2 separate regions of the Homo sapiens genome follow, and region 2 is linked to region 1. Evidence: fine-mapped expression QTL. Tissue or cell type: subcutaneous fat. Region 1 holds a variant in brackets; the other region holds the start of a gene. All regions are shown on one strand. Distances are from middle to middle.

The links.
Region 2: it holds the start of ADRA1A, and the variant in region 1 is fine-mapped to the expression of ADRA1A in subcutaneous fat (TwinsUK, PIP 0.95).

What each region holds. Positions count from the first base shown.
Region 1 is chr8:26,909,847-26,926,140 of GRCh38, forward strand. No RefSeq gene overlaps it. Among named protein-coding and RNA genes, the nearest start is that of ADRA1A, 51 kb to the left of the region's middle. The variant T/A (reference allele first, on the strand shown) is at 7,718.
Region 2 is chr8:26,859,405-26,875,698 of GRCh38, forward strand. It overlaps ADRA1A (adrenoceptor alpha 1A), which reads right to left and starts at 7,874. Exons shown (of 3, transcript NM_000680.4): 1 at 7,532-7,874; 2 at 4,683-6,251. The coding sequence starts at 5,565. RefSeq lists an enhancer at 6,144-7,095.

The sequences.
Region 1 (16,294 bases):
TGCGTCCAAAGGCCTGAGAACCAACAGAACTGAAGGGAGAAGTTACAGTTTAAGACTGAGTTTGAAGGCAGGAGAACACTGATGTCCCAGCTTAACAACAGTTAGGCAGGAGAAGTTTCTTCTCAATTATCTTTGGATGAGGCCCACCCACATCAGGGAAGAACATTTGCTTTACTAGTCTACTGATTGAAATGTTAATCTCATCCATAAGCACCCTCACAGACACACCCAGAATAATGTTTGGCCAAATGTCTGGGCACCCCGTAGCTCAGTCAAGTTGATGCATAAAATTAACCATCAAAACTGCCTTTAGGTTCTGATGGATCCTGTGTTTACACAGGAAGTAGGATGTCAGTTCTCTATGCTATAGGGTTTGGTCTGTCAGTGTTGGGCATCTGTGTGCACTCTCCTTGGCACCTCAGAGCAAGGGTTAGCATGGAGTAGAAAATTACAGAAGGGCCAGGAGGACATGTAGCCATTGTGGTCCTGTGAGAGAAGTGGAGCCTTAGAGAATGGCAAGATCACTGTGGTCCAGAGTAGTTAGAAGTTTCATGGAGGGGATGTGACCTGAATGGTGCCTTGAGGAATGATTGTACTTTTTCTGGGGAGAGAGGAGACAGAGAGGATCCAGTGGAAAAAGCAGCATGAACAGACACAGCATGAAGGAGTGGGTGGGGCAACAGGCAGGAAGCAGCCTGACTGCAACAGAGTGCATGCCGGGAAACAGGAAGAAGCAAAATGGGTAGATGTGGTCTAAGAAATTAGAGTGAAAGAATTAGACTTCACACCGTAATAACAGGAAGCCACTTCTCAAGCCGGGCATTCATCTGATGGCAATGACATTCTAGAAAGAGTTGTTTGCTCTTCCAGTTAAATCCTTAAAGATGAATGGTTGTGACGTAATGGTCTCCAACAGCCCCCTTATTATCAATCACCTAAAAAAAAATTAAATTTATTTTACTTAAAATATGGTAATGGAAACTAATTCAGTAATAACAAAATTTGATTTTATTCTGTTCTTTAGATACTGAGAAAATTAAGAGCAAACTTTCCAGGCTTGTGTGAATTTCAGAAGAATATTCTCATTTTACATATGGCAAAGTGAGGCAATGGTCTCACCATATAATATAACAATGTAATCTTATATTCTTAAGAACTGCTGTTAAGAACCACCATTTAAAACAAATTTTTATATTATGATTCTTTCAATAATATTGCTATTAGTCTTGTAATATACTTGTATTCTGGGACTACTTCTACTTACTTTTATACGTAGCCCAACTTTGCAAGGAAAATACTCTCTTAATAGTTGAAAAATGGCAGTGTGCTACTGGCTTATATTTTACCAACACTGCTTCTCCCCAGTGCATGTTTAGGTGCAGAGCTATTTCATTATCACAGCAGAATAATTGCCATTTTCAAAGCCAGCCCTCAGAGCCAAGCAGTGAAATTGTAAAAATTCTTTTACAACTAGCAGTTGTGAGATCTTACATACGTAGAGTGCACTTCTAGGACAAGCATTTAAGATACTTGGGGTCTTCCTCAAACCATTCTAACATTATCTCTAGCTACTAAAAATAAAACAGGTAAGTCAACTTTTAGGACCACATTTGTAATTCTTTTAGAAAGAATAAGAAGATGATATCCATGAAATATTTGAAGGTGAATTTGAATATGAATACCATATGATATGTGAAAAACTATGAAACAGGCTTAAATGTTTTAATACTTCCCATCAATCACACTGCACACTTTTTGACATCTTTTATGTTCCAATTGATATAGATGTAGAAATTTCCATCAGAGGCTTGGGGGAAAATTATATATCTAAACTTATTGCTATTGTTCCTTCATGCTTTTTCTTCCTTATAAGGAAGTTTTGCAAGAAACTTCATCCCAAGAGGTCATCTTCCCTGTAAAATGCGGCAAACACCCTTTTTAAAGATGAGAAAGGAGGGCGTTGAATTTGGGAGACGATGGTGTTCCAGAAAGGATGGAGCAATGCATGGCTGTCAAACACAGCTGTACACTAAATTACCTGGAGCATTTTCAAAACTATTGATGCCTTGGTCTCATCCACCAGAGCTTCTGATTTAATTGATGTGTGGTGCAGCCTGGCATCAAGATTTTTCAAAACTCCCCAGGTGATTCCAATGTGCACCCAAGGTTAAGGACACTGGGGTGGTGGCCATGGGCTTGAGTAACAGCTGGAGGGAGTCAGGTGTGTCGTACAGACTCCATGATCCTCCTTCCTGTATGTGAAAAGTGGAAAAATACCAGCATTTTACAGGGCTATTGTAAGGATCAAATAAAAGGAAGAATATGAAATTTCACTGAAAACTATAAAGGGCTCAACAAGTGTTGACCTTCTCAGAGATATATTCAGACCCTTTTACTCCAAAAAAATAGCAATCTAATTTGCACAAAAAGTCATGCTTCAATCATCTTTACAGAAAACAAAAGTCCTGCCAATTTTTGAAATAGTTACTCATCACCCTGGTAGACTTTGGAAACTCACTGACCATTTTGTATAATAAGTAGATTTTATACTAACAGAGGAATATGTAAATGCTATTACGAAAACAGATATATTTAGCTGTTTGCATATATATATACACACACACACACACACACACACACAGCTGTACATCTGTACATATACACACAAACAGCTAAATATATCTGTTTTAGTAATAGCATTTACATATTCCTCTGTTAGTATATTTCCCTTGGGGTAACTGATTATATATATATATATATATATATGCACCCATATGGGAAAAACTGAACTGGGTGGGTAGACTAGCAGACTAGCAGTAGAATTTTATCTCTGCATAATTTGGGTGCATCGAGAAAAAAAGGAAGTCACTGATAGAATAAGGAAAATAGAGCTCACTACTAATGTGCAGAAATCTGCAAAGGAGAGGGAAATTGTTAAAATAAAAGTTAAGGAAGATGAGAACATGGAGGTGATTGATGAAATTGACAACATGAGGGAGTTTTGAGACTTACACATGGGTAGTATCCAATGAGTTGTGGGAAATGAAATTCAAGGAAGATGAACTGAAAAATGAACAAAAATTCCCAAAAAGAGGAGTGGAGAAAAAGGCATCAAGGGGACTAAGACCCCAAGGGAGAATTTATTCATAAGATGCTGGAGTTAGTAGAGTATCCTTGGATACTGGTGGAAGTGACCCATGGAGGAAAGGCTGATGATGGAGAGAAGGGCTAATTGCAGGAGTGAGATCCTTCAGAAAGGGTGTTGAGATGCTATCCTAAAGGAGTCTGACAGGAAAATGAATCATACATTTGTAACAAGATAGAACACTGAGATTATAGATACGGATGTCAGCTTATTATAAATTTGAGGATGGGAGATTTTCAGCTTTATCAGTGAAGTGTGATGCAAGATCATCAGCTAAGAATGTTGGGAGTTGGACCCTCTGGGCCAGAGGAGAAGGTAGGAAATTTTGTCCTACAGTGTGGAAAACAGACTTATTAGGCAGATGAGGTAGAATTGCTGATGCGTGTTTAATGTCAATTTGTTGTCACTGGTCATGAATTTAATTTGAAGTCAGTCAGTCCTTTGGTCCATTCTTAGGCACAAGTGCAGGAAAGGTGGAGGTTTGGGTTTTAACAGGATGGTGGTTTTGCTCAGGGAGAAGAATGAGCGGAGTTGTTGTGTTAGCAAGTTTGGCTTCATGAAACACTGAGCACTTACCAGTTGGGTTTTGGTGGGGGAGTGTACAGAATTCTTTTATAGAACCTGTTCTTTCAAACGTCTCTTAATTCAGTGCATGACTTCCTCTCCCTAGCCAATAGCCAGATTGGGATGCAGCCAACTGGGAAGCTTCAAACAGTCAGTCATCTCTAAGGGGCTTTAAATTACTAAAATATATCAGAAATACAGGAACAAGCATCCTGTTTTTACATTTCTGGCATAGTGGACTGAACGGTGGCCCACCACAATATATGTCCACCAGAACCTATAAATGTGATTTGATTTGGAAAAATGGTCTTTACAAATGAAATTGAGGATCTCAAGATGAGATCATCTCTAAATCCAATGACAAGTGACCCTTGTAAGACAAGAGAAGGAGAGAAAACACAGAGGAAAAGGCTATGCCAAAAAGAAAGAAGAAAGAAAAAGAAAGAAAGAAAGAAGGAAGGAAGGAAAGAAAGAAAGAAAGACAGAAAGAAAGAAAAGAAAGAGAAAGAGAGAGAGAAAGAAAGAAAGAAGTTGACCAGAATAGGCAAAGTTACACATACTTAAAGTAAACTAATGGTTGCCTTGGGCTAGGGACTGGGATGGACATGACACCTAATGGGTATGGGGTTTCTTTTGGGAGGAATAAAAATATTCCAGAATTAGATAGTGGTGATGTAAAGCTTTGAAAATATACTAACATCATTTAGTTGTATACTTTAAGAGACTGAATGTATAGTATGTGAATTATTTCTCAATAAAGCTGTGAACAAAAGAGAAACAAATAAACAAACAAAAAAGAAAACAGAGGCAGAAGTTGGAGTTATGCAGCTCTTCCAAAGAACAGCTGGAGCTACCAGATGTTGGAAGAGGCCAGGAAGGATTCTTCCCCTAGAGCCTTCAGAGGGAGTGTGGCCTGCCAGCACCTTGACCTTGGACTTCTGGCTCCCAGGACTGTGAGAAAATACATTTCAGTTGTTTTAAGCCACCACGTTTGTGGTAACTTGTTACAGCAGCCCCAGGAAGCAAACATAACTGTCAACATGGAAATAGTTCCTGCTCCCAGTAAAAGGAATGGTACCCCTAAGTAAACAGAAAAAAATAATAAAACTAGTAAACCTTGCCAGTGCTGACCTAGGTCTGTTGAGTGTATTTGTGGCATGCATATGACAACTTATAGGGCCCATCATCTGGCCAGTCACTGATCTTCAACTGTATTAGTCTATTTTCACGCTGCTGATAAAGACACACCCGAGACTGGGCAATTTACAAAAGAAAGAGGTTTAACTGGACTTACGGTTCCACATGGCTGGGGAGGGTTCACAATCATGGTGGAGGGCAAGGAGGAGCAAGTCACGTCTTACATGGATGGCAGCAGGCAAAGAGAGAATGTACCAGCAGGGGAAATGCCAGATGCTTATAAAACCATCAGATCTCTTGAGAATTCACTCACTATCACAAGAACAGTATGGGGGAAACTGCCCCCATGATGCAATTATCTCCACCTGGCTCCGGCCTTGACATGTGAGGATTATTACAGTTCAAGGTGAGATTTGGGCAGGGACATAGCCAAACCATATCATCGACCAATCTGTTGACAGTTGCCTGAAAACGTCAGCAGAGCAGTCTGGAATTCTGAAATGAATAGTGGATGGCATGGGGGTGGGACTCATTTTCTTATCTAAAATTGAAAAGTACTAATATCTCATCTGAGAACCTAGTTTTTTTGAAAATTGAAAGAGAAAACTCGATGGAGAACGATTATGAAAGAAAAGGGAATGTTGTGTTAATTCGTTTTTTTTTTTTTTCGGTGGAAGTAAATTAGTAAGTGACTGTTCTTCCTCCAGTTTCGAGCAAACATTCTTTGCCCAGGATCTGATTCCTATCTCAGTTTGAAATAGAAATCAAAATGGAATAATATTTGACGTTTTGCTGTTTCAGATAATTAATGTCAAGAAACAATAACTGAAAATTGGTGGGATTAGAGTAGGGCTCTTTTCCATGTGAAAATGGAAACCTGGGATTTCATTGCTGCTGCTGACATCAGTCATGAGGCTCCCGCTCCATGGCCTGGTGCCCGACTGAACAAATGGTGAGCACGTTGTGCCATGAGAGCAGGAGTCCCAGCTGATCACTGCTTTCTCTCTCTGGCTTCCAATGTGTACAGAAGAAACTCAAAACAGCAAACGGGGGTCAAGCCCCAGTTTTGCTGTTGACAATATCGTCATGGAGAATAGGGCTTGAACCTGAGCCTAAATGGGGCGTTTTCTCCTGCCTCTGTGTTTGAGATAACTGGCCATCACCGAAGAGCAAAGGGCTGACTGCAGTTATCCACCCAGAGGCTAGAACAGAAGGATCAGAGGCTTGGCTGAGCTGTCAGAGGAGTGAGGGCCAGGGAATGTGCTGGTCAGCTCACCAAAGGTAAATTCATTGGGCTGGCCAAGAGGGTAATAACTGAACCGGATAAGTGAGCTGGATAAAGGGAGCCCTGGCTGTTTCTTTGAATGTGGCTGTAGAGCGTATACTCAGCCTGTACCTACCTGCCCCCACTCCCACCACCAAGCCCACTAACCAAACTCACTGACTGAGGAGCCGGCTGGGGATAAAGGATCCCCCAACATGAGGCATAGGTGGAAAAACAGTCCATTTATTTTAAGGTTCCCAATAACTGCTGCTTCTCTGATTCAATATACTATAGGAAAATTGCTCATGGGAAAAAGTTATAAATGTGATGACTTAATAAACTTAAAATGATCAAGCCGTATTTACAATCATCAATATCAAATGAGCGTTTATATTCTCTATGGGAACATGCCACTTGACAATGTTTCTGTTGTCAAAGAGAATGTGTCAGAAAATCAAAACATTCTGTGAAAGCAAAAAAGAAAAAAAGAACCCAAAACAATAAAACAGATTTATTTTATCCTTAGTTGAGTAATGCTATCTGGTTATGTGATGAACTGTGAAATGATAAGCAATTCTAAATGAGTTTTAAATTCAGCTCAAGTAATAAAGCCCTTAATATGGACCTAATGAAAGAGATATACAATTCCATTAATCACTGAAAGCAGTTTCTGGAAGTCACATATCTTGAGCTGCACCTGCCTGGTCTGATATGAGGCTAGGCCATTTCAGAGCCTGTAATCCAGGGAAATCCTAGGAAGGGAAAGGAGATGTGAAAACAGGAGTTGAGTATTTATTATTCTCTGATACCGTGTAGTTAAAAAACACCCCACCCCCCATTCCTTCAGCATTTTAGGGGCTCAAAATGGTAATGAAAAGATTCATTATGGGGCTGGGTGTGGTGGTTCATGCCTGTAATCCCGGCTCTTTGGGAGGCCAAGGCGGGCGGATCACTTGAGGTCAGGAGTTCAAGACCAGCCTGGCCAACATGGTGAAACCTGTCTCTATTAAAATTACAAAACTTAGCCATGCATAATCCTGAGTAGCTGGGATTACAAGCGGGCATGGTGGCAGGCACCTATAATCCCAGCTTCTCAGGAGGCTGAGGCAGGAAAATTGCTTGAACCTCAGAGGAGGAGCTTGCAGTGAGCCGAGATTGTGCCACTGCAATCCAGCCAGGGCAAAGAGGCAGACTCTGTCTCAAAAAAAAAAAAAAAAGATTCATTATGATTGGGCATGTGAAGTAAGTATTCTCTTGCAACCCACTTTCTTAACAGTATGTGCCACTTTTATCAGTTCTTTTCTAGAGATGCTCATCTCCATTTATGTTATTAAAATCTATCCATATAAAAGGAATTGATTTTTATAAACTTCAAGGTAGTAATTTAATGACTTTAATAAAATTACTCCCTTAAAACTGTAAAACATTAGTGATTACCCTTCTCATCTGAAGGACAGACCACAGACAATAATACATTTGCAAGAACAAAAGGAAACTGGAACTGGAAGTCACTTTGGTTGTATTGTCAGCCAACTGATGTTTCTACTACCTTTTCTTTACTGTTCCCATTAGCTCATTTTGAAACACATTAAAAAATTATTATTTTT[T/A]ATTAATACTCCAGATTTTTACATATATATGGGGTACATGTGATATTTTGATTCATGCATACAATGTGTGATGATTGCAGTATTTAAGATATCCCTTACATCGAACATTTATTATTTCTTTGTGTTAGGAACATTTCAGTTAACAACAATATGTTGCATATTTCAAAACAGCTACAAGAGAAAATTAGAAAATTGAAGCATATTTTGATGACATACTTTTCTAGTTTCTTCAAAGGATATGGATGGGGGATCTTTTCTGTTATCCTCACTGAAACAATGACATCCCTTTCCGTGAGAATTAATGCTTATTACTTATTACCATGATCCAGACGCTGGTCTTAGTGCTTTACATTTGTTATTCAATCATTATGATAAACTACACAAAGAAAGTGTATTACGTCATTCTTGCATTGCTATAAAGAAATATCTGAGGGTGGGTAATCTATTTTAAAAAAGAGGTTTGACTGGCTCACAGTTCTGCAGACTGTATAGGAAGCATAGTGCTGGCATCTGCTTCTAAGGAGGCCTCTGGAAGCTTCCAATCATGGCAGAAGGCAAAGAGGGAGGAGGCTCACTACATGGCGAAAGCAAGAGCAAGATGGAGGAAGGTGCTGCACACCTTTAAACAACCAGATCTCATGTGAACTCACTCACTATTGTGAGGACATCACCAATCCATGAGGGACCTGCTCTCATGACCCAAACACCTTCCACCAGGCCCCGCCTTCAACATTGGAGATCACATTTCAACATGAGATTTGCAGAAACAAACATGCAAAGGGTACTATTTTTTATCCCATTTTTCAATGACAAAGGAGGGGCACAATGATAGATGCCCAGGTAGTCAGACTCAAGCACACGCTCCCACCCATCAGGCTACCCTTCCACTCTCCATCTTTATCTTCAAAGGCTGTTTTGTTCACGGGAATTCCTAAACCGTCTCTTCCCTTGAGTCCTCTTCCCATAAATGTTGTTGAGAATTCTCAGAAGGTTAAAGGACTTGCTAAAATTTGCACAGTGAGTGGAGCTGAATTTAAAACCAGGCCTTCTGATCTCAAATCCTATCAGCTTTAATAACATCACACTACTGGATATAGCTGAAGTTTTCAACTTGGGAGAAACTGGCTCTGAAACAAAATAGTTGGCACTATTTCACTTCTTTCACAAATAAAATCCAGATGGATTTCAGAATTAAGTCTTGCAAATGAAACCATAAAAGTACTGCAGGAAAATTTTGTTGAATATTTATGTAATCTTGGGGCGGCAAGGCCCATTCTAAAAATGCCCCAAAAGTAGGAAAGATAGATACATTAGATTTCATAAAAATAAAAAGTATGTAAAAACATTGCATACAAAAAAAGGAAAGGCAGGCCGGGCGTGGTGGCTCATGCCTGTAATCCCAGCACTTTCGGAGGTCGAGGTGGGTGGATCACCTGATGTCAGGAGTTGGAGAACAGCCTGGCCAACATAGTGAAACGCTGTCACTACTAAAAATACAAAAATTACCTGGGCGAGGTGGTGCACACCTGTAATCCCAGCTACTTGGGAGGCTGAGGCAGAAGAATTGCTTGAATCCGGGTGGCGGAGGTTGCAGTGAGCTGAGATCGTGCCACTACTGTACTTCAGCCTGGGCAACAGAGTGAAACTCCGTCTCAAAATAAAATAAAATAAAAAGCAAAAAAAAAATAGGAAGGGCAAACACCTGTGCAAAAAAGAAATCCTCTCTTTTTATTGATTCATTCAAAAAAGATTAGCACTGGGGTAAAATGGAGAGGAAAGGCAATGTTCCTGCCTTCATGGAGTTTATAATCCAAAGACAAAGTCAGACACTGATGAATATGCAATTACATGAAACAAAGGACCCCAGGGGACCCCGGAGATACTTTTTACATGCTCTCCAGGTGGGTTTTTTTCTCCTCACATGACTCTCAAGTAGGTGGACTTTTCCTTCAATCTATCCACTTATTTCTTGCGGAAATCTATTAATGTTTTTGACACCTGGATGCTACACTTCTCTAGTTTTTAGTACCAATATTTCAACTGCGCTGCAGTTCTGGGGACATTGCAGTTGGGTATAACAAAGGAGAGGTGGGTAAGCAAATAGTTTCTATCTGGAACCAGATTCTGCATAACTTTAGCAAATGTATTCTGCAGGAACACTGCAAAGGGAAACTACGTACTGTCCAGCATAGCCCATGGCCTTTTGGGGAAGATTGGGACACTTCTGCTCTGACTCCAAGTTATTTCATTACAGCCAGAGGCAATTTGGCCAAGAAAGACCCTGACAGTGTTTCCACTAGGAAATATTCAGGCCTTCTTTCCTCTCTTGCCAGAAAGTACCCTCAAAGCCAAAGGGAAGAAAACAAGGAGCAGTAGTAAAGACCCGTTACTAGCAGGGAGAGTGCTTCCCTTGGCCTGTGCCCAGGGTGACTTGGCCATCATAAGCACTAAGTTCTCAGGGTCTGAGCAGAGATACAAGGGTCTTTATGTGAGAGGAGCCCATAGCTGGTGAGCCTCTCCAAGCCAACTCTATTGTCCCACTCCTCTAAGATAATGGATTTTAAAAATTGGCAGAAGGAGTGTGCAAATTCTTTTCTTGCTTCTAACTTGCTTAGCATCAGGCTTTTTCTGTAACCTTTGAGTGAAATAAAACACAGCCTAAATCGTGGTCCTCAACTGTGAGTGGATTTCCCCCCACAGGACTTTGACAATCTCTGGAGACATTTTTGATTGTCATGACTGTGTGGGAGTTGTTGCTACTGGCATCTAGCAGGTAGAGGCCAAGCATCTGGCAATGCTCAGGACAGCCCTCAAGACAAGGAATTATCTAGTCCAAGTGTCAGCATGCCTAGATGGAGAAATACTGACCTAGGGATACAAATACTCCTTCAAACAATCTCTCAGAGCAAAAACAAAATAAAATAAAAAGGCACCAGGCTGGGTTGGTGAATATTTTGGAAAGAAAGAGGGCTTTGGTTTTATTTCTCATTTATTTTGCACAGAATTCTCAGACTTTTCACAAATAAAAGGGGAGTTATAGGCATGACCGGTGTGAAGTCAAAGTAACAGCTTTCACCATGACACATTGTCAAGTATATTTCTTGGACTCTCTCTCTCTTTTTTTTTTTTTTTGTAATTCCCACTTCAAAACCCAAAATCAAAACTTATCTAAATATCTTTGGTAAAATACATATTCAAGTTTTGCATTATTTGGATACTTACTCCCTCTAACTCTACAACGTTACATATTTTCCTACTGCATTTTTAACTTTCTAGCTAGCTTTAATGGGCATTTTATATTAACTCCTTCTGAAGTTTTTGTCCCAGAGTAAAAATATATTGACCTAATGTAATAGTGTATTTTACTATCATTTTTAAATTGTTTTAATTTGTGTGTCTTTTATCTTTATGGCCCACTGGTTTCACTTGTTTCTAAGTATTATATGGTTTGGCTTAATTTCACAGATGCGTATAAATTTCCCTTTACTTGCTGTAAAATTAACTGTGAATTATGAGCATGTGCTCTAGTAAATGTTCACAGCTTCTCTATTAGGAACACTCAGATGACTGGGAAGTTACTAAAACTGGGGTTCCAAGAAAAAACAGTGGATAAATGTTTAACTCCTTTAGCGTTGACTCCTTTCTGAAAGGCAAATTTTTAAGACCTCGGATTCTTTATATGTTAAATGTGGTTTATCATTAGGAATTTCATCTGGTTATGTGACAGGAAAGATCACTGACTTGAGCAGGATAGGATTTTATGGATTCACTTTTGTAAAATAGGTCTGGAGACAGGCAGTCTAGGACTGACATCGTCTGGTGGCACCATCCGGTCATCTCAAATTGAAGCTCCTTACTTTGAGTTGCTTCATGCTCAGTCATGGCTTCTGCCTTCAAGGTCCCCTGTAGTTCACATTGACTGGAACTCTAGCCATTGCCTGCACATTCCAGCACAGAGAAAATAAGAGAAACAGGACAAAAGGGTGGCCATGCCTTTCAAGGTGCTGTCCTAGCAGTCCCATGTCATACTTCTGCTAACATCTCATTGCTAGAATTTAATCTCTGTCAGGGAGGCTGGGAAATGCAGTCCTCGAACTGAGTACGTTGCCATCTCCAATAAGATTGGGATTCTGTTACCAATGAGAAATGACAGACTAGGAGTTATACAGTGAGCAGTCTCTGCGACAAGTATTTCCAAACTTTTAAAGTTAAGGAACCATGTTTTTCCCAAAAAAATTGTATTTGGGTGTCCACTAATTTTCACTGCTTTCTTCTGACACTGATTTCTCTCTCAGCACTCCCAAGGTTCTGGAAGATTTCTATGGAACTAAGGTTCCATAAGGGCACCATGGGTTTGAAAATCATTAGCTAAGATAATTTCCAAAGGTGTATTCTTTTTTAAAAATTCTGATTCTTTGATTTTGTTGATTTGTAGGATAAGTAATAGCTAAAGAATCACATTTCTCAGTGATTATGACAAACTTTAAAAATTATTTTTTATTTCTCTATTTTTGAGACAGGGTCTTGCTCTGTCACTTAGGCTGGACTGCAGTGGCATGATCACAGCTCATTGCAGCCTCGACCTTCTAGGATAAAGCGATTCTTTCACTGCAGGCTCCTGAGTAGATAAGACCATAGGTGCATACCACCATGACTGGCTAATTTTTTAAAAAAATATTTTTAATTTTGTAGAGATGGGGTATCCTTATGTTGCCCAGGCTGATCTCAAATTCCTGGGCTCAAGTGATCCTCCTGCCTAGGTCTCCCGAAGTGCTGGGATTATAGGTGTGAAACACCACACTCAGCCGTAACAAACTTTTAAAAATTGTGGTTGTTAAATTATAGGTGTCGAAAACAATGTTTTAATTCAGTTTTCTTAATCTGAGCATTCCATTCATGGAACAATGCCCCCTTTTTCCTCCAGTCCTCACCAAGTTAAAAATGGATAAAGATGAATTGGGATTGGGTTAAATATATTTGAAGAAATATTTGTATTTATTTGTTTTTCTTTCCTGTTTTCCTCTTAGTAGTGTTGGCGTAAGTTAATCGTTCTGAATATGTTCAGTAGTGTTTGAATCTGTTGTGTTTCCTGAGATCATTTGTAAGGCACATATTGTTCTCCCTATACCTTAAAACTAATTCCACTTTTACCACTAAACTAAGACGTTGTAGAAAGTATATGGTTGTTAACAGCACACATCCTTATACTCAAATATCATTTCTCTCACCTAATAGCTGTGAGATTTTGAGCAAATTAATTTTCTTAAAATATGTCTTCATTTATAAACATAATGATATCTATCTTGTTGATTTTTTAGGGTTAAACAAAAATAATGCATTGTAGGCACTTTATAAATGTTAGTTTCCTTTTATGAAGAGTATAAGTTACTCATATCATAAAAAAGCTTTAGGCCCTTCTCTGAAAATGAAGAACCAGAGGAAGATGGGCATAGGGAAGGAATCAGAACTATTAAGATGGTGATGGCTTGGTCTGGGAATTCATGTCAAGGAATGAAGGAGCCTTGATTATAGGATGCAGGTTAGTATATTTAACCTCACTCTTACATATAATACCATCATTGTGTAAACACACACACACACACGCACACACCACACTATATGAATACAAATCATGAAACATCAACGGAAATGTAACAGCAAAAGATAATGTATGTTTTTTAGAATTGTACCCTGGTTGTGATTCTAAAATTTCTTGGCTTCAGAAAGTGGCATTGGTCTGATTCAGGTTTATTCTTGGCTCTCACATGAAAACAGCAGGCCCGGCCAAAGGCTAAATTATGAATCTTTCAAGTTTGACTTTGGCAAGCCTCCTCCTTTCAGCACCTTCCTTAACTCCAGGACAAAGTGGGGGTTGGGGGAAGAATGGGGAGGTGTTGACCAAAAAAAGAGAAGGGTGTGTGAAGACATTTTTTCCAGCTATTGGGATGTGAGGAAATGATGCAGGACACACCATTTCTTGGGGTGCAAATTTCCTACTTTGAGAAACACTGCCTTAAGAGATAGCTGCAAAACATGTTCCCTTTTCCTGTAAGACTATAGCTGATGAAAGCATTTCACCCAGACCCGGATCAGTCAGAGGGAGTTCCAAAAATAGTAAAAGTATGTTAAGAGCACGTCTGTTGAGAAAATCACAAGATATTAGTCTCTGCAGCAGCTTTTCGTCTCTCTTCATGTATCCTCTTCCTTCATTTATGAATATTTCTTGACTCAGCCTATTTCCAAGGGATTGATTTCACAATACCTGCAATCTCCAACCTTGCCAGCTATAGGCATTTAACCTGCAAGAGGTTCAGCTGGCTCGAGTCCCTGCACCAATATCAGAGACCAGAGTCTCCTGAGGTCTTGCCTCCTCATTCCTGGTATTTGGGGCCTGGGTTGATTTACTTCATATAAGTGAGTATCTGCCTTGGTTTCCTGCAGTGCAGCTACTCTTAAGCCTGGTCTTGAACTTCATTCAGTTAGCTGTGCTGGGGCCTCGACATGGTTGACCAAGATTAGATTTCTTTCACTAGGAAAAATCTCATCCTTGCCCCACCCAGGCAATCTAGGTGAAGTGTATCTCAAATGCTTCCTCCTACTGGAGGCTTGTGAATTTTTATCGTCTGGCCAACACTTGTATCAAGTTATCTTCTATATTGTTATTGCTCCAACCATAAATAGGTTTGCTGAGCCATTTTGGGCACAGTGATAGGCATGGTTGGTGCTATGCTTTGAATGTATGTGTCCCTTCAAAATTCATGTGTTGAAACTTAAACCCCAAGGCGATGGTTTAAGAGGTGGGGACCCTTGGAATGTGATTAAGTCATGAAAGATTCACCCTCATGAGTAGTGATCTTAGAAAAGAGTTTGAAGCAAGTAAACTAGTGTCTCTTGCCCTTTGATCTCTTCTGCCGTGTGAGGACACAGCATTTGTCTCCTCTAGAGGATAAAGTAACAAGGCACCACCTTGGAAGCTGAGAGCAGCCCTCACCAGCCATGAAGTCTTCTGGCACCATGATCTTGGACTTCACAGCTGCCAGAATTGTGAAAAACAGATTTCTGTTGTGTATAAATTACCTGGTAGGTGGTATTTTGTTATAGTAGCAGGAACAGACTACGACAGTTGGTCACTCCCTTTGAGTGAGTTAGACATTCTAGTAACAGCCACACAAGTCTGTATGACCACAGCCAGAATATCTCATGGCAAAGCTCCTAAACAACAGTGCTCATTATAGCAGTAACTGCATTTGGACAATATAATTATGTGGGTGAAAGATTGGCATACAAGATTAGGATCAGAAAGAACATTAGAGGAGGCTGATTTTAAATGCCATTTTCATACTGTGTTAAACTCCAATATATTTTTAGGTCAGTTTCTGGACTTTGCCTTTTACTCACTTGAGCTTTCAGTTGCTCCCTGCATCTTTACTACATTATCGTAATTGTTTGAATTAAATACAGTTTTAGTGTATTATAAAAACACTTTATACAGTATTTTTTCAAAATTTTCTTATGTGGATTTACTTGAGCTTAATTATTTGGGGAAATGTTTTCCTCTTCTGATCTCTTTCGTATTTTTGGCATTTTCCTCTGCATTACTGAGAAAATTTCTCAAGGTTTTATCATTTATTCTATTTGATGCAGTATTGATTCTGTTACTCTCTGGGTCTAAAGTCATTAAAAAAGTTATCATACAGGATGTCACCACATCCAGGGTAGAATAAATAATATTACAAAATAATCTATTGTACTACAAACATATGAAACAACTTCAATGAGAGTGGTGGGGGGAAAAAAGCATTGACCTTACTACATGTGAAAATGACTTGAGACTGTAAGACTAAAGGCAAAGGGAGCTGCACATAAACACTGTGCTCTAATTGATACAGTTGTTTCATATAGGGGTACAAATGAACAATTCTGATACCGCTACACATGTATACTGGAATTGAACAATTACGTAAATGGATGGCAAATGGTGGAAGTCAGGTTTTTCACTGTTGGAGTAGGAGGTTATAGATAAGCAAGGGAAGGAGAAGAAAAGGATCCATGTAGTAACTGATTAGATTTGTCAGCATCTGTATGAACTTATGTTTAGCTTAATACAGACAGGTACATATGGAATAGTTATAGATATGGGTATATACTTGAGTTACTGTATACACATATATTTTCTTGTTCTGTTAGCTGAGAGGAGGGCCTAGAAGCAATGGCACTCCATTAGCAATGAGCATTCCTGGCACCCAGATCTTGGTTTCTAATACCTTTCTCCAATAAAAGGAACCAGGGCTCTTTGGAGAAATAGCTGATTTTTGAACTTGGTAGGGAAGGAAATATACAAGATGAGCTTGGAGCATTGTATAGTGCCAGAAAGTAAGAAAGTGCTAAAACAAAAAATCTGCAATGATGGGGGTATGCCAAAAGGATACATGAGTCAACTGAAAGAGCTTCCAATGGCCAAAGCCAGAACAATTTGAGCAATAAAATAAAGTATTATTGGATTATAACCAAAAGAACAAGACAAGATAAATATTTATGAGTCTATGTAAGAAAATGATTGAATAAATCATTTTCATA
Region 2 (16,294 bases), 50 kb before region 1:
CTATATTCCTTAGCACACTGTAATAATATCATTCTGAGCACCATCCTGAGCACCATGTAATAATATCACTCTGAGCACCTATGTCATAGACTTGCAATAATTGTTGACAATTTGTCTCCTTAACTAGACTGTGAGGCCCTTGAGGGCACTGTGTTTTATTCATCTTTTTTATTCTGTGTAGCTGAGAGCCTGGTGCTTATTACATAGCCAGTACATTCTTGGAGGAAATCATCTCTTACTCAATTGGTGTCAGGAAGAAATTGAGAGCCACAGACTGGCAGGTTCAGGGATCCTTTGCACTACTGAGCAGCTACTCAGACCCTGTGAACTGTATGTTCCCTACTTCCCTCCTGTCATATCATTTTTCTTTTTTTTTTTTTTTTAGACAGAATCTCGCTCTGTCACCCAGGCTGGAGTGCAGTGGTGTGACTCAGCTCACTGCAACCTCTGTCTCCCGGGTTCAAGCGATTCTCCAGCCTCAGCCTACCAGGTAGCTGGTATTACAGGCGTGCACCACCATGCCCAGCTAATTTTTGTGTTTTTAGTAAAGACAGGGTTTCACCATGTTGGCCAGGCTGGTCTCGAACTCCTGACCTCAAGTGATCCGCCTGCTCAGCCTCCCAAAGTGCTGGGATTAGAGGCATGAGCCACCGCGCCTGGCACCTCACTAGGATTTAAAAGAAGCCCAGTGATTCCGAGGGCTCCTGTCTACCACCACTTCTCTCCACCACAACATCTTCTCCTCCACACTGCTGACTCCCTGGGAGAGCAAATCCAAGAGCGGGCTATGACTAGTCAGAGCATCCACCTCCCCTAGATGACTCCAGGACCCAGGCCATTGTTTCTCATCTCTATGCATAGCTCAGCCACCACTGCAAGCTCCAAACTCTCAGGCCACCCATCGTCACCTGGGCTCCTTCTACAACCTGGCTGTGGATGCTCCCTAACCTGACCGAGTCTGTGTCTCTTCACACACACACTCTCTGGGACTCACAGTAGGTCCTCAGCATTGCCTCCTGTATCCCTCAGCTGCTTAGCTCTTAGAGAAAAACACACAACCCTCCTTCCCGCTGTACTTTAATGTTATGACCGTAAATCTCAGATAGGCCTTCAGGACTTCCCAGTGACTCTACCAAACTTCCATAAAATGTTTACTGTCCCACTCTCAAAGATGAATCTTTCACACCTTCTCTGAGGCTAAAACTGCCATCGTTCCCCATTCCTGACTCTCTCTTAGCTGATGACCTTGCTTCATATTTCACTGAGGACATAAACATATCCTAAAGAGATCACTATCTCTCTCCCTCTGTCTCTACTTGCCTCAGGGCTCACACACTTTGCTCTCCTTGTCACTTCCCAATGCTCCCCTTGGGCACTGAATCCCGTTGCCTCTTTTGCCTATCCCATCAGTGCCTCTCTCTATCCCATCGTTCCCATCAGAATATAAATATCATGTCATATCCCCACCTCCCACCATTGAAAGCTCTCTCTATACCCCTCCAGCTACACCGCATCTCCTAGCTCCAGTGTATAGCAAAACCTTTCAGAAGAGTTGTCTATTTTCCCTGTTCCCACTTTTTTTATCCTTTGTTCTTTCTAGAAAGTACACAATCAGGCTTTTGGTTCCATCACTCCTCTGGACCTGTGAGCCTCACGTGCCTTCCTCCTATCACTAAAAACCTGCTTACTGCCAAATCTAGTGTTGGCTCCCAGTCCTCCTCTAACCTGACCTCTCAGCTGCATGTGACACAGCTGATTACTCCTGCCTTCTTGAAACATTTTCACTAGGCTTCCAGGACATCACATTCTCCTGATTTTTCTTCTCCCTGGCTACTCCTTTGCAATCTTGTTTGCTGGCTGTTTCTCCTGTTTTTCCTGACCTGACCCCCAGAGGCTCTGTTTTTTTTTTTTTTTTTTTTAGATGGAGCCTCGCTCTGCACCCAGGCTGGAGTGCAGGCATGATCTCGGCTCACTGCAACCTCTGCCTCCCGGGTTCAAGCGATTCTCCTGCCTCAGCCTCCCAAATAGCTGGGACTAAAGGTGCAGAGGCTCTGTTCTTATCTCTCTTTACTCTCTTTATCTTTTCTCTTGTCAACCTCTCCATTCTTGTAGCTTTAAAGATGTTGATATATCCCAAGTTTATATCTGTAGCCCGCCTCCTCTCTAAGCTCCAAATCTATGTAAAGTGTATAACTCCCTACTTGCCATCTCTACTTCCATGTCTAATGAATGTTTCTCAACACAGTGATACAAAAGAAAGGCTCATACTTCTCACTCCCTGCAGCCCCTTGCAGCCACATAACTCTTTGGTTTTGCCAGTTTTAGTGAAGTGCATTACTATTTACTCAGCTATTCAGGCCCTAAACCTACCTATTTCTCACACCCTTGTCCACACTCATCAACTTTACCTGTAAAATAAGTGCTGAATGTGATCACGTCTTACCACCTCTACCTGTCTCACCTGAGTCCAAGATGTCATGACCTCTCTCCCCTCGACTTCTAATAGCCTTTTAACTAGTCTCTGCTTCTGCTCTTGCCCCCAAACAGCCAATTTTCCCCCCAACAACCAGAATGATCCTTCAAAAATATAAATGAGACTGGCCACTCACCTGCTAAACACCCTTGAATGACTTCCCACCACAATTAGAATAATATGCAAACTTTACTTTGGCCTGAAAGACCCCATATGACTTTGGTGTTGTCTATCTCTCCAATCTCTTCTTGAACTTGACTGCCCCCTCCCTGTCTGTAGTTGAGCCATACTGGCCTCTGTGATCTTCATTGAACAGGTCAGGCTCTTTCCCATCTCTGTACTCGCTGCTCCCTCTGCCCAGGAAGCTCTTCTTCCCAGATCTTGCAAGCTTTGCTCTTCAGTCCAGTCAGGACTCTGCTCAAATATCACCTCTTTAGACAGAATTTTCCCCACTACCCACTAAAGCAGGCCCTCATTGTCTTTGTCACTTTCTAGCCTCTCATCCTGTTGATTTTTTGATAGTGCATGTTAATCTTGACATTTTAGGATACAATCATTTGCTTATGTCTACCCTTTCCAAATACAACCGTCTCATTGGCAAGGACTTTTCTGCCCTGTTCATCCAAAGTGCCTAGAACAGATGGTCCATAAATACTTGTTGAGCGAGCACACGCATGAATACGTGTGCAAAGGGGCTCAGGTAAAGAGTGTAATTTCTATAATTTCAAAGCTGTGATGTACTTCCAGGAGCAGAGTAAGTAATAATGATGGGCAGGCACAATGGAAGGCCAGGTATTGGATTAAGGAGGGCCTCTCTGGCAGCCCTACAGGACAGACATTTCTGCAATGATAGAAATGACCTATATCTCTGCTGTCTAAAACAGTAGTCACTGGCCACGTGTGACTATGGAGCACTTGAGATGTGGTCAGTGGGACTGAGGAATTGAGGAACTGAAAGAATTTTATTTAATTTCAATTAACATTTAAATAGCTATCCTTGGCTGGTGGCTATGGTATTAGAACCTGAAGAATCCCTTCCCATGGCTTGTGATTGCAGGATAATTGTGTATAACTCACTGAGTTGTCGAGGGGACTAATGAAATAAAAAGCTTAGGAAAATGTCTGGAACATAAGTGGCACAAAAAAATAATAGTTGCTATTATTCCACAGAGTTGCAAATTAAAGTACTTTAAGTATATGCCATTTAAATTAGGCTGTAAAGCACTTGAAATGGACTTTTATTAATGTTAGGCATAATGTTTTGTTTTTTAGAGTTGGTGGATAATCGATGTTTGGGTCTGTATTTGAGCTTACAAACTAAAAATAGCACACAACCATTTTGGGATCTCATTGAAGGAGATAGATGTCTATTCCAAGTGGATCAGCTTGCTGATACTTATAATGAGCTAATTAATTTTGACAACAGCTAATTTAGCATCTGCAAAAATTGGATTTGTAACATTATGTGTACTGTATTATTTTCAAACAGTGTTATCTGCAACTTCCCGGATGATTTTGGATAAGAGAAGTGTTTGTTTTAATACTTATTATTAAAATAAAAAAATAAGTATTTACTTATTGGAAATACTATGATTAATTATTTAAGGCTTAAATTGGTTTGGACATAAAATCATTTTTTTTTCTTAGTGGCTGACCATAATTCCTTCCATACTGAATCCAGAAAATAAAATTAGCACAGATATAGAACATAAACAGACCATTATAACAAACCCTTATGAATAACCTAATGCAATAATAAAATCACACATTTGTCCAGAATAAGCATGGTACTTATTTTCAGGCCAAGAGAATTTGCATTCTGTAGCAGAGTGAAAATGGCATTCCACAGTCAGCCTAAGCACTTGGTGGAGACTCTGAGACTAGAGAGAGCAGATGCATTTAAATTGAACACGTGCTTATAGGCATTAAGAAAAGTTGACATTCTTATTAAAGAGACCAATTAATCTGCATCAGTTGGAAGCCACTTTACAGTCGAAAAAGTGCTCTAGGACCTAATATAAATGAGACTGGAGTAGAAAGAGAATGAAAATTCACTTTTCTACAAGGGAGCCTTTTCTAATTGCCCTAGAGCTGTGCTGTTTGAAATGCTAATCCTTCCTCTTCCATCCCGGACTGGGAGTCTGGGGTAACAGAAGCCGAGGAGGGTGAAGACCCCCAGATGCTAAAGTGAGGGGTGTTCAAGACTTACCAATGGGCATGACTAAGAAAAAAGGCAGCCAGCAGAGGACGAAGCAGCCGACCACGATGCCCAGCGTTTTGGCCGCTTTCTTCTCCCGGGAGAACTTGAGGAGCCTCACTGAGAAGTGCGTCTTGGTCTTGGCGCTGGCCATCCCGCTGCCTCCTGCCGGGGCGTTTTTCCGATGGATGCGGAGCGTCACTTGCTCCGAGTCCGACTTGTCGGTCTTGAGGCCAGACTTGAGGCCCCGGCTCTCCCTCTTGGCCACCACGTAGACGCGGCAGTACATGACCAGGATGATGGCCAGAGGCAGGTAGAAGGAGCCCAGCGCTGAGAAGAGCACGTAGCCCGGCTCCTCGTTGATCTGGCAGATGGTCTCGTCCTCGGGGGCCGGCTGCCTCCAGCCGAACAGGGGTCCAATGGATATGACCAGGGAGAGTGCCCAGACGCAGAGCAGAGCCATGAGACCCCTCCTCTGGGTGACGATGGTTGGGTAGCGCAGCGGGTAGCTCACGCCGATGTAGCGGTCGATGGAGATGATGCAGAGGCCCATGATGGACGCGGTGCAGCACAGCACATCCACTGCCGCCCAGATGTTGCAGAAGACCCTGCCGAAGGCCCAGTAGCCTAGGACCTCGAAGATGGCGGAGAAGGGCAGCACCGTGGAGGTGAGCAGGAGGTCGGCCACCGCCAGGTTGACGATGTAGTAGTGCGTGACTGAGTGCAGGTGTCGGTGACAGGCTACGGAGAGGATCACTAGGATGTTACCCAGCACCCCGAAAAGAATGAGGCCCCCCAAGATCACCCCGAGCAGAATGGCCTTGGAAATGTTCACCGGTGCCGGCGGTTGGGTGCAGTTGGAGCTGTCGGAAGCATTTCCCGAGAGAAACACCATGGTCCCAGCCGGGGCCGGGCGAGGTCCGGCTGTCCAGGGCCACCTCCCGGGCTGGCGCGGAGGCGGGAGCGCGGGAGCCGGGAATCAAAAGGTCTCGGCTGGAGGGAGCCCTGCCAGGTGGGTTTGGCTGGGGGTGAGAGCGCGCGCGCGGGTGGGAAACAACCCTGGCCAGCCCTGGGAACCCTCAGAAGGCCACATGAAGGGGCAGGGCATTAAAGACATGGCCAGGGGCGCGCGGGGCTGCCGGGGACCCTCTCCACCTGCCGGGCTGGCCTAGCCCGGGACCCGGACTCCCTCCCTACCCGAAGCTGGGTGCGAAGATCCAGGAGACTCCTTGCAACATGCAATTCCAGAATTACGAGAATCTGCTTTTCCGCGCTGTCTTATTCGTCCTGGCTGGGGGAAGATTCAGCATTCTGCACATGATTCGGAATTCAAAACTCCAGCGCCAGTCTCTCCCTCAAACCAAAAGATCAGCCGTCGACGCTCAAAGGCAGGGACCGATGGTTGGGTAGCGCAGCGCTACAGGTTGGGCGCTGCTCCTGGCCCGCAGTTACCTACATTTTGAGCTGCCCCACCGAAGGCTCCTGCTCTCTCCAGCTTCTAGGAGCACAGGTCAGGGGACGTAGGTGTGGAATATGTGCTGAGACCCAGGAGGCTGCGGGGCATCGTTTGACCGCGTCCACCTGAAAGAGCGCAAAGAGAAAGGCGGCTTTGAGCTAGGCGCCCCAGGGAAAGAGGCTGTGCTGAGCTTGACGGGTTGGGGGACACCAGTTGGGAGCCGGGTTGGTTCTGCGGTCCAGAAGCTGCTTCGCCCGGCAGCGGTGGAGGCGACTTCGGAGCTCATCTCGCGCCCCCACCACTGGGAACCTGCCTAGCGCACTCTACTGAGTCACCTCTGCCCGAGTTCAGGATCCGAAGCGAAAAACAAACAAAAAAACAAATCCCCAAAACCCCAGGCTCCAGCGCTCGAAGTCTGGATTTCGAGCGCAGGTACCACGAAATTAAAATCCTCGAAGCCCCGGAGGGGCGACTGCGGCTGGCGAGTGTGTCGCACGGATCCTAGCCGGGGAATTCTGGAGGATGTACTCGGTTTCCGTTAGAACAGGTTGCCTCGCAGTCACCTGGAGGGGGCGGCCTGGGAGAGGGAACAGCTGCGACCCAGGGACCTCAGGGCCAGGACCACGAGCACGCTCACTCTCACGCCGGTGGAATTCGCACTCGGGTGTGCAGAGCGCACCGGTCTGTCCACCAGCCAAGCTGGCTTGAGAGCCAGGTCCCGAGCGAAGCCGGGAGGGACCCGAAGACAGAAAGCGACCCAGGTCTGTCCACGACGCCTTTCCAAGCCTCACTGTTGGCCACCCGAGGGGCTCCAGCTGCCAGCCGTAGCGGGACTGGCGGGGGACGGGGTGGGGAGGACGTCCCTCTGCAGAGGGAGCTTTGCAAGTGACAGTCACTGCGGATTTTGCAGGCGTAAACATTAAGCCGGCATGCCAGCGGGCAGGGGCCGCCTTCGATTTTCTGGGCTGGGGGCCACCATCTGCGTAAGAAACCTGGGTTTCCACAACTGCGAACCTACCGCAGGGACTCGGCAGGACAGCGCGGCGTGAGGAAGTGCCCACCTTGCCTTCTGGGGTTGGGCCCTGAGGTGGGACCTCGGGCAAAGACTCTTGTTAAAATCGCAAGTTGGAGACCTCACAGGTGGTATTAAAAACGTGCCACTGCAGAAACCCTTTTCCTCCTACCTCGAGGGTGATAAACACAGGGTTAAAAAGACACTTGTTCAGTAGAAGGCAACTTCGCAGAAGATGTAAGGGAATCGGGGGTGGGGTAGAGGGGCCGGTATAAAACCTGGTGGAAAAAGCGGGAGGCGCTGGGAAAAGTGGGGGTTCCGTCTCACCAGACGGCGGGGGAGGTCTGCCCTCACCCACTCGGCCCTGCGGGACGCCGGCCCCGGCGCACTCACCTGAAGCGCCGCTGCTGAGCCACCAGCTCGCGCGCGGGGGATGTGGACCCGGCTTCGGTCCCGGGAGCTGCCTGCCTGCTCTTCTCTGGAGGCGGAGAGGGGACCGTGTCTCCGAGGCACCAAATCCTTGTCCTTTTGCACCCGCTGACTCACCCCTCCACCACTGATGTCTTTAAGCTCCTGAACCGCTGTCACTTTACCTGCATTTTTTAAAAAGAGTCAAAATAAGAAAAGAAAAAAAAATGCAGATAACCGGTAACTCCACAATCACCCTTTTAATATTCAGCTCCCCGACACCAGAAAAGAATAGCAAGGAACTTTGCAGCTCTCGCTGACGTAACTCAGGCAGTAGCCCAGCTAGTACCGTAATCTCCTGCTGCTACCGTATTACTCTACGGCAACAGGCACAAGTGCGTATACAGCTGTAATGTTTTCCTCTGGCCTAGAGGGGGTTGGGTTCTAGCGTTTCTTTAAAAAGGTTTGTGTGTGTGTGTGTGTGTGTGTGCGCGCGCGCGCGCGCGTGTGTGTGTGTAGAGTCATTTGTAGTAAATAACTTCTTTAAATGAGCTTTTAAAAATAACGAAAAATTGACACCCTTGCTAGATATTGCTGTGTGTATGGTGTGTTCATAGGAATGTGCTATAAAGTAACTTTGAACAGCTTGATTTGATTAACATTTGGCCTAGGTTTTGTTAAGATCAAGAAGTATATTAAGAATATTGTAATTCTAAATATGCAAGTAAATTATAAGGTGTTTTAAATAGCAAGTAAAATCAGATAAAATATGACAAATCTGATTGTAATGAAATTATATTTTCAGGAAGATAAAGTGGACATATCTAAACCTTATTTAATATGATTCACTTCTAATTTCTTTAGACAGATGAATTTTAAGAGCATTATGGCCACAGAGTTTGGTATTTTTTAAATGCCACACAATCTTTTCCAGTTTTCTTGAGAAAATGGTATCCTTTCAGGAGTGTTACTCTCTTTAATTCATTAATAGCTGGAGTATGAAAACCTAGCACCACCAGTCTTATTACTTTTTTTCTGGTAAATTACATAATCTGTTTACCTTGTGATTGAATAAAGTCACATGTGTTTCAGAATATCGGGAACATAGAAAAATGTTTCCCACTCCAATTCCCACCTCCTAAGTCATCTTTCATCTTTATTGATGCAGACAAAGTGGAATGTTCTTATTTACTAGGTCTCCTTAAACCTAGGAACAAGGAGATAACTTTAAGCAGTGGCACTTAAATTCTCTCCTGTGAACAAAATCATATTAATATGATTACCTTTTCTAAGTGAGATAATGTTTGGGAGGCTCTTTTATAGCAATAAATCTCAAAATGCCTCAGAGGAATGCCCATGAGAGGGTCAGTAAATCCTATGTCATGGAAGACCTAATATATGTATTTATTTCTCTATTGTATACAAAGTCCTCCACCTCTGCCTCATACCTGTAGGGATAGAACTCACACCTAACACATTTGATTTGAATTTAATATATTTTTAAAACTGAATTTCGTGCCATAGGAGGAGCATCCTGGTTGAACAGACAGCTCCACTTCTCATTACTAAGTCACCTGCTCTCTCTGGGATTCAGTCCCCTTAGGAGGAAGCTTGACCTCAATTCCCTGCACTTCTAGTACTTTATCATCAAATATGTGTATAATGTCTGTGCTTCCGAAATCCCATCCATCAGAGGGATATACACTGTTTTGTTTTGTATTCATTAACCTGATGCTGTGAATGCAAATTCTTCATTAAGATGTGTTCCATGGTAGATAAGGGAAGCAGTGCTATCAGCAAGCAAAGCAACTGAAAATTGCTCAGCTCTGCAAGGTCGAAAATTGCAAAAGTCTTTGTAACTCCCAGTCCCCACTCTACAACAATTAAGAATACACATAATCCACCCCTGCACCCACCTCCAATAATTAACTAGTTAATACTAAGATAAGGAAGAGCAGCTCTTCATGCTGCTAGCAGGTAGGTCTTTCAAATCTGCTTCTCAGCCTGTGACCATCAATCCTTGCAAAACGACCTCTCAGAACCAATTTTTCAGTCACCTACCATTGATTCACAAACAGAAAACTATCCATCTGTTGGTTACTCTTTAAAGAATAGTTGACGTGGACATCCCAGAAAGTGTCTGAGTTGTACACATGGGTAGGTGGAGTGGAGAGGAGTATGCTCTGGGGTCATAAAGATGCTATTCTGACCCTCCTATGCGACCATGGCAAAGCCTTGGTTTCCTAATTTTTAAAGGGAGACAATGAACCCCCACAAGGTTGTTATTAGTGTTGAAAGAAATTACGTTTCTCAAAAACTCAGCTCATAATATTCACTAACTCTATTATTAATCTTATTAACTCCCTTTCTGCTCATTTTGTATGCTACTTTATAGTGAAATATATTTCTAACCCAGGTAGTCCATGAACACTGGTAAATTCAGCTGGAGAATGTGCTAAGTGTCTTGAGCACTACACTTGAGCTAAGTGGTTTAATCAGAATGACCCAACATGGTTAAGTTGCAAGAGCTGGCCCTGATCACTGGCTGCTTCTTTTCTTCTCACTTTCCCCCTTGTTCTTTGTCTTGAGGGGCCATGCAAATGTGTGTGAACACCTCAGCCCCTACAGCCAGAAAGCTGCCTTCTTGGCCTCAGGCCTTGGGGTACACACATTTGTGATGTTGTCTGCCCAGAGAGAATGGACCTGAAAGTGATTGTGTGGCCATCTGGGGCAAGGGATTCTGAGTCCCAGGGCATGGTCTAGAAAGGAGGGCACAGGCTCCAGGTGGGCATATCACATTAGTCCTATGGCCAAAAGGAGTCAGAGCTGGACTCTCTAAAGCCTGAAACCCTAGCCGGGGTCCCTCTTGCCTGGCTCTGAGGGTGATACTCTGAAGACTTCCGGTGTGACAGAAATTGAAGAATCCCCTGAAGGGGTGGTTGTGGAAAGACTCATAAAATGATATTGCTTGATGTAGGATTTGTGGAATCAGCAGGATTGAGATTTGTAGACAAAAGTGAGGAAGGTGAACCATCAGCAGCCGCATTTTAGAGTGGTGTGTCAGGGATGCTGGGGGAATGAGTCTGATTGGAGAAGAGCTGAGCAATGGACATAAACCCATGCATTGATTGGCAGGACTTTCTTAGTGACTAGTGAGGAACTCGGCAAGTGTGGTAGGCTTAGAGGTTTAAAAAAATAAAGAATCTGTCTATCATTCCCTTAGAAAACAATACACAATGGAATTAGGAGCTGTGTTCTGGAATTTATGATTGCAAATGACAGAGTAGAAGACTTAATGTTAGTATCTACCCCAAAGACTTGGCTTTTCAACTAATTCTCCTAAGGCTTAATAAGTTAAAGAGGCAAGAAAATGAAAAACAATTCTCAGAAAGGTATTGATGCAGTATCAAGTCACAGCTCTCCAAAGAAGCATTGTGTTCTAATCCTTTATCGAACTGAGAACACTGCACAGCCCACAGATACTGCTGAGGGATGTCTTTGATGAGATAGTAATTCTGTCTTTGCCATCATTTTTCCAAATCTTCATTGCCCTGAGAAAATAACATACTCCAAGTCTTGGGAGTCATACCACCCCATCCCTACACTGTGGGACTATCATGGTAGGAATATGAGGTCAAGTCAGCCTATAGCTGATCAGCAAATAATTCCTTTAAAACAATAAGACTTTGCTCTCGCATAGCAAATCTAAGCTGAGGCATATTAATCAAATTTTTTCAATATCTTTGTCAATATCATCTGGAAATGGAAGTAAAAGAAAGTCAATATGTGTACCAAGTGCAGACACATTTTTATCTCATCTCTTCACTTGCTGATGGGCTGTTATAGGCACTTTAAAATGCTTATTGACTTGTATTTAATTATAAAATTTATGCTCATAATAGCACATTTGGAAAAGTCAGACAGAAATGTATGAAAATAAAAATTATCTGTAATCCTGCCACTGGAGAAATAGCTATTGTTAAATATTTGTCATATTTTCTCATTTTTTGTTAATGTGTATAAATTATATACATGGAAAAATATATATACACATGTACATACCAGGAAATATTTTATGTACATGTATTTATTATGCATACATATATATTTCACATATTATACATTGTATACATTATATAAAAGAGTGTAATCATACTGTACCTATAATTATATATCTTACTTTTTCACTTATATTATATCATGAACTCATTCTATTATTACATTTATACCAAAACATGGTTTATAAGAGCTCCACAGTGATTCTATTATATGTATATGCTATTGTCTGAATGTTTGTGTTCTCCCCAAAATTCATATGTTGTAGCCTAAATTCCGAGGTGATGGTATTAAGAGGTGGGGTCTTTGTAAGATGATTAGGTCACGAGGGTTCCATCCTCAGGAATGGACTTAGTGCTGTTATAATAGAGGGAGCCTCTTTGCCCTTCTGCCATGTGAGAACACACAGAAGGCGACATCTATGAAGAATGGGCGCTTGCCTAGCATCAAATCTTCTGGCACCTTGATCTTGGACTTTGCAACTTCCCGAGCAATATATTTCTTTTGTTTATAAATTATCTAGTCTAAGGTATTTTGTTATAGCAGCCTGAACAGACTAAGACACTGTATGTCATGACAAATTAAATATTTAAATATTCAGGCTTTAAAAAAAATTCTGATCTATAACTTGAACTGTGGTAAATCCTCTTATTTATTTATTATTTTACTTTAAGTTCTGGGATACATGTGCAGAATGTGCAGGTTTGTTGCATAGGTGTACATGTGCCGTGGTGGTTTGCTGCACATATCAACCCCATCATCTAGGTTTTAAGCCCCACATGCATTAGGTATTTGTCCTAATGCTTTCCCTCCCCTTGCCCCCCATCCCCTGACAGGCCCCAGTGTGTGTTGTTCCCCTCCCTGTGTCCATGTATTCTCATTGTTCAACTCCCACTTATGAGTGAGAACATGCGGTGTTTGATTTTCTGTTCCTATGTTAGTTTGCTGAGCATGATGGCTTCCAGCTTCATCCACGTCCCTGCAAAGGACATGAATTCAATTCTTTTTTATGTCTGCATCGTATTCCACGGTGTATATGTGCCACATTGATAAATACTCTTACATATAATATTGTACTCCAAATTTTCCTTAAGATTAATTTCTGTAACTAAAATTAGAATAACAAAGGTTATGAACATTTAAGAGGTTATAACAGATATTGACCTCTAGAAAGGTTTTACAAATGTAGATGTAAAATATAAACTCCCAATAGGAGTGCATAACAGAACCTGTTTTTTGTTTTTTTACTTATTTATTGTTTGTCTCTTGCCAACTTTGACTGTTTATAATAAACTAGACAAGTACATAATATATGTAAATAAAATAAACCGTAGGCAATTTTATAAGTAAAAAATAATATCTCATTTTTTAAAATTTGTATTCTTTAGTTATGATTTTATTTCTTTACATTTATTTGGCATTTCTATGTTTTCGTTTGTGATTTGCTTGTCCGTATTTCTGCTAGCCAGGTGATATGGTTTGGCTCTGTGTCCCCACACAAATCTCATCTCAAATTCTAATCCCCATGTGTCAGGGGAGAGATCTGGTGGGAGGTGATTGGATCATGAGGGTGGGTTCCCCCATGCTGTTCTTGTGATAGCGAGGGACTTCTCATGATATCCGATAGCTTTAAAAATGACAGTTTCTCCTGCACTCCCTCTCTCTCCTGCCGCTCTGTGAAGAAGGTGCCTTGCTTTCCCTTCACCTTCCACCTTATTATAAGTTTCCTGAGGCCTCTCCAGCCATGCAGAACTGTGAATCAATTAAACGTCTTTTGTTTATAAATTACCCAGTCTCAGTGTGAAAACAAACTAATACACCAGGATTTGGTCAGAAACTGCTGTAGTTGTTTCACGTAGGAAGGATTTAATACAGGGAATCAGAGGCTTATAATATTGCTGGGAAATATTGGGAAACAGATTAGAGAAAGCTACTGTTAACCTCTGGGAATTCTGAAGTGCAGGTGTATCAGGAAACCGTGTTGGTGATTTCAGCTGCCTAAAGCACCAATGATGTGCAGGTCACCCAGGAGATCCTGGCAGAACCTCACCTCTACTGTTGGCTGAAGTCTTCATCCTTGCACAACACTGCTACAGGGTGAGAAATGGCTTCCGCTTCTCTTCCACTTTCCAAAATCTCACAAAATTCCTCTCATTGGTGAATTGTGACCCAGAATCCCGATGGCACAGATTATTCTAGCCTTTGCAATGCAGAGAAGAGCATAGAAAGAAAAAAAAAATGACCCTGAGTGGACAACAGACAATTTGGTATAATGTCCATTACCCATTTTGATATTGGTATTTTCCTCTTTTATCATATTGATTTGTAAGAACTTCTTATGTATTATGGTGGCCTTGAAAACATGCCATTTGATCTACAGCAAGGAGCATAATTGACTTAGATTCTCTTAGATTTTGCTCTTCTGGGTCCATTCCTGCATTCATGCCACACTTTCTATAGGCTGTTCTCAACCAATGGCAAAGCAGGGCAAAGGTTCTAATGCAGGCTCATTACTGTAATATATGGGATTTCTTGAATTGGTGAATTTGTCTCACGTCAGCTAAAACTTCCTTGTAACTGTGCAACAGTCTGACACTTTTCCTTCCCTTCTTCTTCAGAAGGTGTCAACTTGGACCATAGTCTGGAGGCTCTCCTTACCTTCTGAATTAGTCTGTTCTCATGCTGCTAATAAAGACATACTTGAGATTGGGTAATTTATAAAGGAAAGAGGTTTATTCGACTCACAGTTCCACATGGCTGGGGAGGCCTCACAATCATGGTTGAAAGCAAATAAGAAGCAAGGTCAACATCTTACATGGTGGTAAGCAAGAGAGCTTGTGTAGAGGAACTCTCCTTTATAAACCATCAGATCTCATGAGTCTCATTCACCACCACGAGAACAGCATGGGAAGGACCTTCCCCCATGATTCAATTTTCTCCCACTGGGTCCCTTCCACGACATGTGGGAATTATCAGAGATACAATTCAGGATGAGATTTGGGTGGGGACATAGCCAAACCATATAACCTTTCCCAGCTCCCTCCCTCCTTGCCTTTACAGGCACTTCCTAGTAAATCTCTTGTATGATGAAATCTTATCTTGGTGTATGCTTTTTGGAGGGCCAAAGGTAACACATATATTAAAGATATTAGAACTTTGTGATATTCGTTGCCATTTCTTCTCATCACAGACATTTAAAAAGAAAAACTTCATGAATTTATATAAAGAGAGAGGCTCTTCCCACATAAGTTCTTCCATAATCAGTATATAAAGTATCATATTATTTATACCTGGGTAACCTGTAAGCTTCATATATTTTGTGCAGATTTTATAAAATTTTACTTATTAGTGATTTTTCTCAGTGATCAGGATGGTTGACCTCATGAAAAAACCCACAGGGGCTTCCTCACTTCTCTCTACTCAGGGAATTTTCCTAAAATTAACCTACATGAAGAAGATAAGAATTTGTACTAACTTTAAAGTCTTTCCTTCTGAAATGAAAAGAGTGAGTATTGATAACGAGCAGTCCCTCAATTTCTTCTGGCTGAGGAGCAGCAGATAATAACACTATTACTTTAAAAGCTTAAAATCAGAGTGTTTTGTCACTTTTATTGATGGATAAGCTTGAGTTCTGAATCAATATTCAGAGTTTCTCCAGTCGTGTTAATTTAACGGCCAGTTTATTTACTTTCTGAACAAAGATGTGGGACATGTATTGATAAAATGGTTTTGTTTCTCTGTCCAGCATCAGAAAAAGCAAAACAGAATAATTTTTTCAGTTCTTTTTTTTCTTACTTACTGAAACCACCTTTATTACCTTTCCTACTCCCTTGTAGCAGTCAAATGAATCCAATTATGAGGAATTAAGCCTATAAGGAAAGACACGCATCAGAAGTCAGCCCAGTCTGATTTTATCAGAAGTACCAATTGTACCTGGGGAATCCTTGGAAAGAATGGTTGAATTATCAGCTGAGAAAATCTTGGGGAAAATAAACCTTGAAAGCCGGGGATCTAGTAATCTATTTTACATTTTCGATGACAAATGAGTTTATAAATATGAAGACAGAAAGTTGTTTAATGATATAAACACTAGTTTAAACTAACATAGGGAGATTCATCTCCATTAGCCAAATTTCCAAGTATTCCTGTTACTGATTTCTAGTTTTATACTACTGTGATCAGAAAAGATACTTAACGTCATTTCAATCTTTTTACATTTATTCAGATTTGTTTTGTGATAACATATGCCTATTTTGAAGAATATTCTGTGTGCACTTGAGAAGAATGTGTATACTATTGCTATTAGATAGAATATTCTACATATGTCTGTTAGATCCATTTAGTCTAAAGTGTAGTTCTAGTTCAATGTTTCATTATTTATTTTCTGTCTGAAAAGTCTGTCCTTTGTTGAAAGTGGGCTATTGAAGTCGCCTAGTATTACTGTATTACAATGTGTTTTTCCCTTCAGGTACTTTAATATTTGCTTTATATATTTAGTTGCCCCAATGTCAGGTATGTGTATATTTACAATTATTATATTCTCTTGTTAAGTTAATCCCTTTATCATTATATAATGTCTTTCTTTTTACATTATATAATGTAAATTATATAATTATATATGTAAATTACATCATTTATATATAATTATATATGTAAATGACATCAATTATATATGTAAATTACATCATTATA